2 separate regions of the Homo sapiens genome follow, and region 1 is linked to region 2. Evidence: fine-mapped expression QTL. A gene starts in region 2. The other region holds a variant in brackets. All regions are shown on one strand. Distances are from middle to middle.

Region 1 (4,532 bases), 63 kb before region 2:
CATTTATTAGTTTTTTTTTTTTTTTTTCCTGAGACAGAGTCTAGCTCTTTGTTGCCCAGGCTGGAGTGCAGTGGCTTGATCTTGGCGCACTGCAACCTCTGCCTCCCAGGTTCAAGCAATTCTCTCACCTCAGCCTCCTGAGTAGCTGGAATTACAGGCGCCTGCCACTATGCCTGGCTAATTTTTGTATTTTTAGTAGAGACAGTGTTTCACCATGTTGACCAGGCTGGTCTCAAACTCTTGGCCTCAAATGATCCACCCGCCTCAGCCTCCCAAAGTGTTGGGATTACAGGCATGAGCCACCGCGCCCAGCCCATTTACTAGTTTTTAACTGACAAATAATAATTTTATTTATGGGGTACAATGTGATGTATCTACATGGTGGAAAGATTAAATTAAGCTAATTAGTATTTTCCTCACCTCACCTACTCATTTTTCTTGTGGTGAGAATGTTTAAAAATCTATTCTTTCAGCAATTTTGGAATATGCAAAACATTATTATTAACTATGGCCAGCACCAGCCCGAGGCCTGAAGCTTTCCTCTGGGTCTCCCTTGCAGGGGCCTGACCTTTTGATGTGATTGTTTTGATGTGGCCATTTAGAAACTGAGGCTATTTTCATGTAGCTATTTTGATGCTGTGGAAATTTTCTGACTTTTCAAAAACTAGCCACTGAACTTTCAGCTTTTGAAAAAATGATCAAGTGTTAATATACTATAGGGCCAGGGACAGGGCAGGGGTTGGCGCTATGGACAAAGTGGGGCAGGGTGAGGCTGGGGGATGGGGCCCATTTCTAATGTAATTTCTTATTTAAAAAACTAAACATGTAAAGTTCTGATTTTTAGGGTCACAAAGGCCCTCAAGTAAAAAAAAAAAAAAGCCCCTCTATGAAAGACACTGTTAAGAGAAGGAGAAGACAAGCCCCAGACTGGGAGAAAGTATTTGCAAAAGACACATCTGATAAAGGAATGTTATCCATAATATACAAAGAACTCTTAAAACTCAACAATAAGAAAATAAGCAACCCAATTAAAAAACAGGCAAAAGACCTAAAGAGATACTTCACTGGGCCAGGTGCAGTGGCTCACGCCTGTAATCCCAGCACTTTGGGAGGCTGAGGCGGGCAGATCACGAGGTCAGGAGTTCGAGATACTTCACTGAAGAAGATATGCAGATGGGAAATAAGCGTATGAAAATACATTCGACATCATAGGTCATTAGGGAACTTCAGATTAAAGCCACACACCTATTAGAATAGCCCAGGCCCTAAACACATAGCACCAAATGCTGGTAATGATATGGAGCATCAGGAACTCTTATTGCTGGTGGGAATGCAAAAAGGTACAGCCACTTTGGAAGACAGTTTGGCAGCTTCTTACAAAACTAAACATACTCTCACCGTATGATCTAGCAATCGTGCTTCTCAGTATGTACCCAAATGAGCTGAAACTTATGGCCACACAAAGATCTGCACACAGATGTTCACGGCAACTTTATTCATAATTGCCCAAACCTGGAAGGAACCAAGATGTCCTTCAGCAGGTGAATGGATAAATAAACTGTGACACATCCAGACAATAGTTTATGTTATTCAACACTAAAAAGAAATGAGCTAGCAAGCCATGAAAAGACATGGAGGAGCCTTAAATCCATATCAGTAAGTGAGAGAAGCCCATCTGAAAAGGCTATATACTGTATGATTCCAACAAATACGGCATTCCGGAAAAGAAAAACTGGAGACAGTAAAAAGGTCAGTGGTTGCCAGGAGTAAGGTGGAAGAGAGGGACGAATAGGTGGAGTACAGAGGATCCTTAGGGCAATGAAACTATTCTGTATGTTATTTTAATGGTGGATACATGTCATACATTTGTCCAAACCCACAGAGTGTTCAATACAAAGAGTGAAACCTAAAGTAAACTACTTTGGGTGATAGTGATGTATGAGTGTAGATGAACTGATTATAACAAATGTGCCACTCTGATGCAGGATGTTGATAGTGGGAAGGTGGCACATGTGCTGCGGGAGCGGGTATATAG[G/T]AACTCTCTGTACCTTCTGCACAATTTTGCTGTGAACCTAAAACTGCTCTAAAAAACAAAGCCTATTTAAAAAACCCAACATTATTAACTGGAATTAATGATAAAAATATGTATTTAAAAAAACCCATAAGCACTTCTCAGTGAATAATGATGGTCATCACTAGAAATGTTCCCTGGGTGACGTTTAGTGTGTGTGTCCTCCTTCCATCAGGGGTGGCAGGAGGGAGGGATGTAAGCACCCTGAATCTACCATGATGCCTCCGTACAGGCAGAGGTCCAGAGAAGGGACAGTGACAGGCAGAGCTGAGGGTGGATCCTGCGGTGGCCTAGGCCAGCCCAGCCAAGGCAAGGCTCTCATTTAGACGTTTGGTTCTGGTGCCTGCAGAACCAAAGGTTTTGCTGTTTTTTTGTTGTTTCCCATGCAGCAATCAGTGATCTGTTAAAAATGGAAATCAGGCTAGGCGAGGTAGCTCAGGCCTGCAATCCCAGCACTTTGGGAGGCCGAGGTAGGCGGATCACGAGGTCAGGAGTTTGAAACCAGCCTGGCCCACATGCTAAAACCCCATCTCTACTAAAAATACAAAAATTAGCTGGGCGTGGTGATGGGCACCTGTAATCCCAGCTACTCAGGAAGCTGAGACAGGAGAATCACTTGAACCCAGGAGGTGGAGGTTGCAGTGAGCCGAGATCACGCCACTGCACTCCAGCCTGGGCGACAGAGCAAGACTCCATCTCAAAAAAAAAGGAAATCGGATCGTGTTATCACCTATATAAGTCCTTTGGGTAGCTTTCTGTACACCTGGCATCAGGTGAAAACTACTGGCCCAGCCTCAAAGCCCAACATGCTCGTGCCCCTCCAAATTATCTGGCCGCCCCTCACTGCAAGCTGTCCTCCTGCCTGTTGGTCTTTCTCATCCTTGGACACGTCAAATTCTTCCTGCCAACTGTTCCCTCTGCTGATAATGGCTGCTCCAATCTTCACATTGATGGGAACTTCTTGTCACTCAGGCCTTAAGTGTCACTACTGTAGTGGGCCTTTCCCAGACCATCCAGTGTGAGGGCCCCCTTCCCACGCCACTCCCTCCATCACCTCTGTCTGTACTGATTCTCTGCATGGCATTTGTCGCTATTTAATGTGCTCTGTCTTGCTGACTGCTACATCCAACCTCTTAGAACAGTGACAGCAAATAGTAGGAGCTTGACAAGTACATGTTGAATGAAGGATTCCAATGAGATCTTCCAATGAGATAATGCGTGTGAGGGCAGAAGGGATGATTTTTATCATTAATAGATGAGACAAATAAAAATAAAAAATCCTCTGACTGGTCTCATGACTCAGGTGCTGCAAGCACAAAACCTCAGGAGTTGAGGATGACACATATTTCCCTTATAAACAGCTTGTATTCTGCAGCAGCTTGGCAGCCACACCACTGAACTCTTGACCTCCCCTCTGAGCTGCAGTGGGGAATATCTAACGACCTGCTAGACACCTTCACTTCAACACCTCAGCCATATCACATCCAGTGCTACATGCATCACTATCTGCCAAAACCAACATTTCCTCCCACACACTTGCTCAGTTAAAGATACCCAAGTCTTCCCACAGCCTCCAACTGGTTTTGTTCTCTTCCTCCTGCAACATCTCATCATTTGGCAGCTCCTGAGGGGCACTTGGCCATGTCTGTCCTGTCCCTCCCATTCCTGCTGCTGCTGCAGGGTGCGGGCCCCCTCCTCCTCTCTCTCTCTCACTCTCTGAGAATTGCCTCCTAGCTGACACCGCGACCTTCAAGGGCTATTCATGGTAACTGAATTTAGCAAAAATGACTACTTTCTCCTCATTCCTGTCCTTTAAGGGTTTTGATTACTAACTGCGACACACGAAGAATGTGTAAAAATACTTTTAAGGGACCTTGCCCTTAAAAGTATCTACAGGTATTCTAGAAAACCAGTATAGCTAAAGCCTGCCCTGGCTTGAGTGCTACTGGGGAAGGAAGAGCTCAGCCTCACACCCTTCACCCCCTTGCAGAAGGGAGTGAGTCTGCCACAGGCCAGCTGCCCTGGCTTGCATCATAATGTGAGCTATCTAAGGCTAGAGCCGAGGTAGAAATATTAGCTGCTGAATAGCAGGTTGGTCTGGACCTGTACAATCCACTAGGGTGGCCACTGGCCATGTTGGCTGTTTACATTTCCATTTAAGCTAATTCCAATTAAATAACGATTTTAAAAAGATCACACTAACCACAGTGTCATGTTCACTAGCTATATGTGGCCACACACTGGACAGATAGCTATAGAATATTTCCACATTGCAGAAAGTGCTATTAGATGGCTCTATTCTAGATCCTCAAGACTTATATCAGGTGAATTTTTTGCATTAATTTAGTCAGAAGATGTTTAATATTCTCCTAGAATGTGCTGCTGGGCTTCAACCATGGCCAGTATCCACATAGTCCCTTTCCTCATGGATTAGTGGGGAAAAAAGGGTCCTTGCAGACTT
Region 2 (4,000 bases):
TTCCCACCCTTAGGAAGTTCAAAGTTTTGTTTCAAATAAAAGTAATGCCCTTAAAACAATTAACACTATAAATTGGCAGATAGTAAACGGCATTTTGTAAAGTGATTAAAATAAAATTTTAGCCCCAAACCTGCAAGTGGCTCAGCTCCTCAAATTTAGGTGAAAGTCTTTTGTACTATAGAGAAGTTTCTATTAAAGAATGGCCACGATAAACAAGCCATGCTTTCTCAAATACACATATCCCCATATTGACATGTACACACAGTCATGGAGGGCCCCAGGTGCTGGCTTGTTTTTCCCCATGGAGTAGAAAGGCTTGCTGAGAAAAGCATGGCCAAGGGTGCTTGACAAGGCTCAGGCCATTCTAACACTGCCCTATGGACCTGTCTTGAATGGCATGGTTGGTTGTCCCTGGGTAAAACTCAGCTCTCAAAGCTTAAAGATTCCTAAATGTCAGGCAGGGTTACATTAAATTGCCACCCTGCCTTGAAAGTTCTCTTTCAGGAAGACAGGTGCATATTTGGCTCAGTCTGTTCCTTTATTCATTTGTCCACCATTCCCTACATCCATCTGTCCATCGGTATGTAGTCTATGCGGCCTCATGGTTCATGCCCATAAGGAACACCTCACTCATTTGTACCAGTTTGGTAGAAAGGACAGTCTGAACGAATTCATTCAAAAAGGCCTGCAAACCTACTAGAGGTCTTCAGATCTTTTATCAGGGCCCCCTGGCACAGCTCCATACTCAGAGCAGGGCAGGAAGCACTGGCTTTGCAGCCTGACAGTCCTGGGTGACTGCCAGGGATGTGTGTTCTTGGGCAAGTGGGCTAATCTCTCTAATCTTCTGTTTGCCTATCTGTACGTGACTAGGATTAGATGGCTGTACATAGAAGCATCCAGCATAGGGCCAGGCTTGCGGTAGAAATGAGTGTTAGTCTCTGGATCCTGAGGCTGCTCCTGGTCCCTGCTCCCAATGCTTGACATTTGCCCTTAGGAAGAGCCACATGAGAAGGTTTGCCTAGCAGGTGGGAGAGAGCAACAGCATTGGAGAGAAGCAGCCTGAATGGGAGTGCAGAGCCAGAGAAGGCAGGCCAGGCACCTCCACAAGAAGGCAGCTGCTTCTGGGAAAGCAGACATCGAGTCCATGCCTCTCCCTAGTACCCTCTCCACTACAAGGCACTGGGGCATGTGACCCAGGCTGACATGCCTCCAATTCCTGCCTTCCAGCGTTATTTCCCAGAAGGGTCAGTAATGTTAGATCATGGAGACTGACAACTAGAACTGTACTGAGATCAAAGTAGTCAACATCTGGGGAATTCCAGGAGTACAGAGGGCAGCCCAAGGAAACCAGATGATTCCAGCCAGCCTACGCAGGGTGGGTGGGCACTGCCTGCTGAGTGCCTGAGTGGTGTGGGCTTAGGAGGTGGGGCTGCACCAGGCCCTCTGGCAGACCCATCATCATGCTGTTGATTGGTCTGGTAATGACAGATACCTGAGTGTGTATCTTCGATTTTCCAGTTTCTAGCTGTGTGCACCAGGGCTTGTTATTTTGGCTATGGTCCTCAGTGTTCTCATCTATAAAGGCAGGATAATATCCACTGCAGGGCTGCTATGGGGCTTAACAGCTATCACATATGCTGGAGCTGCATATGCACGCAGAACCCAGCCCATACCATGGACTCAGCATTGGCCCAGACCCTAACTGTTCCAAAAAGATGTCTGACTAGTGAATTAAGTAATTTTAAGGTACAAATGCCACCATCTTCGGTGGATGGCCAGAGCCAAACCTCCTTATTGTTCCCCTTTAGTTTACGAATAAAGCTCGTCAGGCCCTGACAGAAGAATCAGCCCCAAAGCAGAATGAAGGGAGTGTGGGGTATCAGTCACCCATCCATCTCTGACCCACGCGTTACACAGGGGCGGGTTGGTCATATGGATTCTGATCTGAAGGACGGGAGTAGGGGGTGGGTCTCTTATAGTAACCAGCTGAGGGCTCTTAAAAAATGTTCAGCGGAAACATGAACCACATCACAGAAGTAGAGGCAGACCTTGCTTCATGAGCAAGCTCATCTCTGGAACAAACTGGCAAAGCATCTCTGCTGGTGAGTCATTTGTTTTACTCTTTATATTGAAAAGAAGACAGGGAGGACTAACCCCAGGTATTGTTGGTATTCTCAGATTCCTGTCTGTAGTAGGGTACAGTGCAAAATGCCAGGCTATGGAGCTCAGCTGCTCTTCGTTCAAATTCCATCACTGCCATTTGCTGCTGTGTGGGTTAAACTGGAGAAACATGAAAACTACTGAACATGTTTCCAGGCACACAGTTAGTGCTTGCAGGCTGATGGTACTGCTAGTAATGGCATAGTCAGACCCACCCAGGGAGATAAGGAGAATCTAGTTATTGTCTATATTTGCTCAATGAATAATCTCTGTTTTCATTTCTTTTGCATAAGACAGGCTGTTTTATCAGATTATCATTTATGTTCTTTTTTCAATATAAATCAACATACTACTGTAGAAACTTTGAAAACTATTTTAAAAAAAGGAAGAAATAAGTCACCCATAATTCCACCAGCTGGAGGCCAACTGTTAATAAAATGTGATCATTTTTTCCAGGTTTCTAAAAGTACGGTCAGTTAAAATCACATAGTTTATCATGAACTCTTATGTGAGGGCCCACAGAATACATGGCAGAAGGATTCAAGGGGTTCATGGACTCCCAGAATTGTAGGGGTGTTTGTGTGTGTGCGTGTGTGTCTGTGTGTGTGTGTGTGTGTGTATATATATATACATTATTTCTGAGAAAAGGTCTGCAGTTTTTAGGAGATTCTCAAAGGAGTTTATGGTCAAAAAAGGTTAAGAATCACAATTTTATATCCTTTTGACATCTATTTGTTGTAATAGTAATAGTTAATACTTATTTTGCATATTTACTTTGTGTTTACACTGTTCTTAGCAATTTAACTGTATTGCATTTTCCAAAATCAGTAAAAATACTTCCTAAACATTTAAGTATATTCTATTTTATGTATGAATTGTAATTTGCTTCATCATTATCAGACTTTTACACTACTTCCAAAGTTGTAGATTTTTTTTTTAATTTTCAGAAAACAAAATAGGATTTTAATTATAGAGGATAAAGAAATGAATGTTTTTAGTTCGCCTAGAAGGGAAAGTAATTTTTCATACTCTATTTGCACAGCACTGTCCAGGCCCAATCTGTTTACCAATTATTATACATCAAAGTTTACCAATTATTACACATGAATTTGCACAGGTCCTTTGAGGAAATGTGTAATGGCAGCATAAGGGACCAGCAAAAGCTGGAACAGGAAGATACCAAAAAAAGGCGAGAGCGAGTCAAGCAATAATGGGGAGCTGAACATTATTCTTAAGAGCAAAGCCACCTGTTTCATATTTTAAATGATGAAAAAATATGTTTTTGCCCATGTGAATCAATAACACATACACATCATCTGACCTACTTAATACAGTGCCCCAGAGAGCTTGTGGGGGGCAGGATGTCTACTGGCTGACCTATCACCCTTAGAGATCTAACAATTGTGACGTAAGGGCAAGGATTTTTATTAAGCAGTCTTAGCCCAAAGGCAGCATCCTTCCTTGCTAGAGAGAAAGGGCACTTTGGTCCCTGGAAAGACAGAGGCAAGCAGCAGCATCGGAGACACTGCTCCCAGTCAGGACTCAAAGTCAGCGACAGAAGTGTTTCTGAGTGGATTAGGAAAGGTAACCTCATCGTTTATATGCACTTGTCTGGTCAGGCAATATTTTGACTTTGCTGGCAGAGATTCTGTCCAAACACCTGCTCTTCTTCATACATCTTCTAGAGGTGCTGGCCAGACATGGCTCCAGGTCACTGGAAATGAGCTGCTGCATGTTGAGTATCTGCAGTCCTGTAGCAAGGGCAGACTTGGCACTCATGGGCTGATGTTGCCGCAGCTGCCCCTGCTCCCACACCACAGGTTACATGATCCCTTGTCCT

What was found. PIP is the estimated chance that this variant, and not a neighbour inherited with it, causes the effect. A credible set is the group of variants that fine-mapping cannot tell apart.
Region 1: its variant is the best candidate, but not a certain one, in a credible set for the expression of CXCR6 in whole blood (TOPMed, PIP 0.85).

What each region holds. Positions count from the first base shown.
Region 1 is chr3:45,877,732-45,882,263 of GRCh38, forward strand. It overlaps a transcript of LZTFL1 not described here. Among named protein-coding and RNA genes, the nearest start is that of CCR9, 6.5 kb to the right of the region's middle. RefSeq lists a silencer at 2,558-2,714. The variant G/T (reference allele first, on the strand shown) is at 2,036.
Region 2 is chr3:45,941,439-45,945,438 of GRCh38, forward strand. CXCR6 (C-X-C motif chemokine receptor 6) reads left to right here and starts at 2,026. Exons shown (of 2, transcript NM_006564.2): 1 at 2,026-2,102. The region is part of intron 14 of FYCO1 (FYVE and coiled-coil domain autophagy adaptor 1); the gene reads right to left.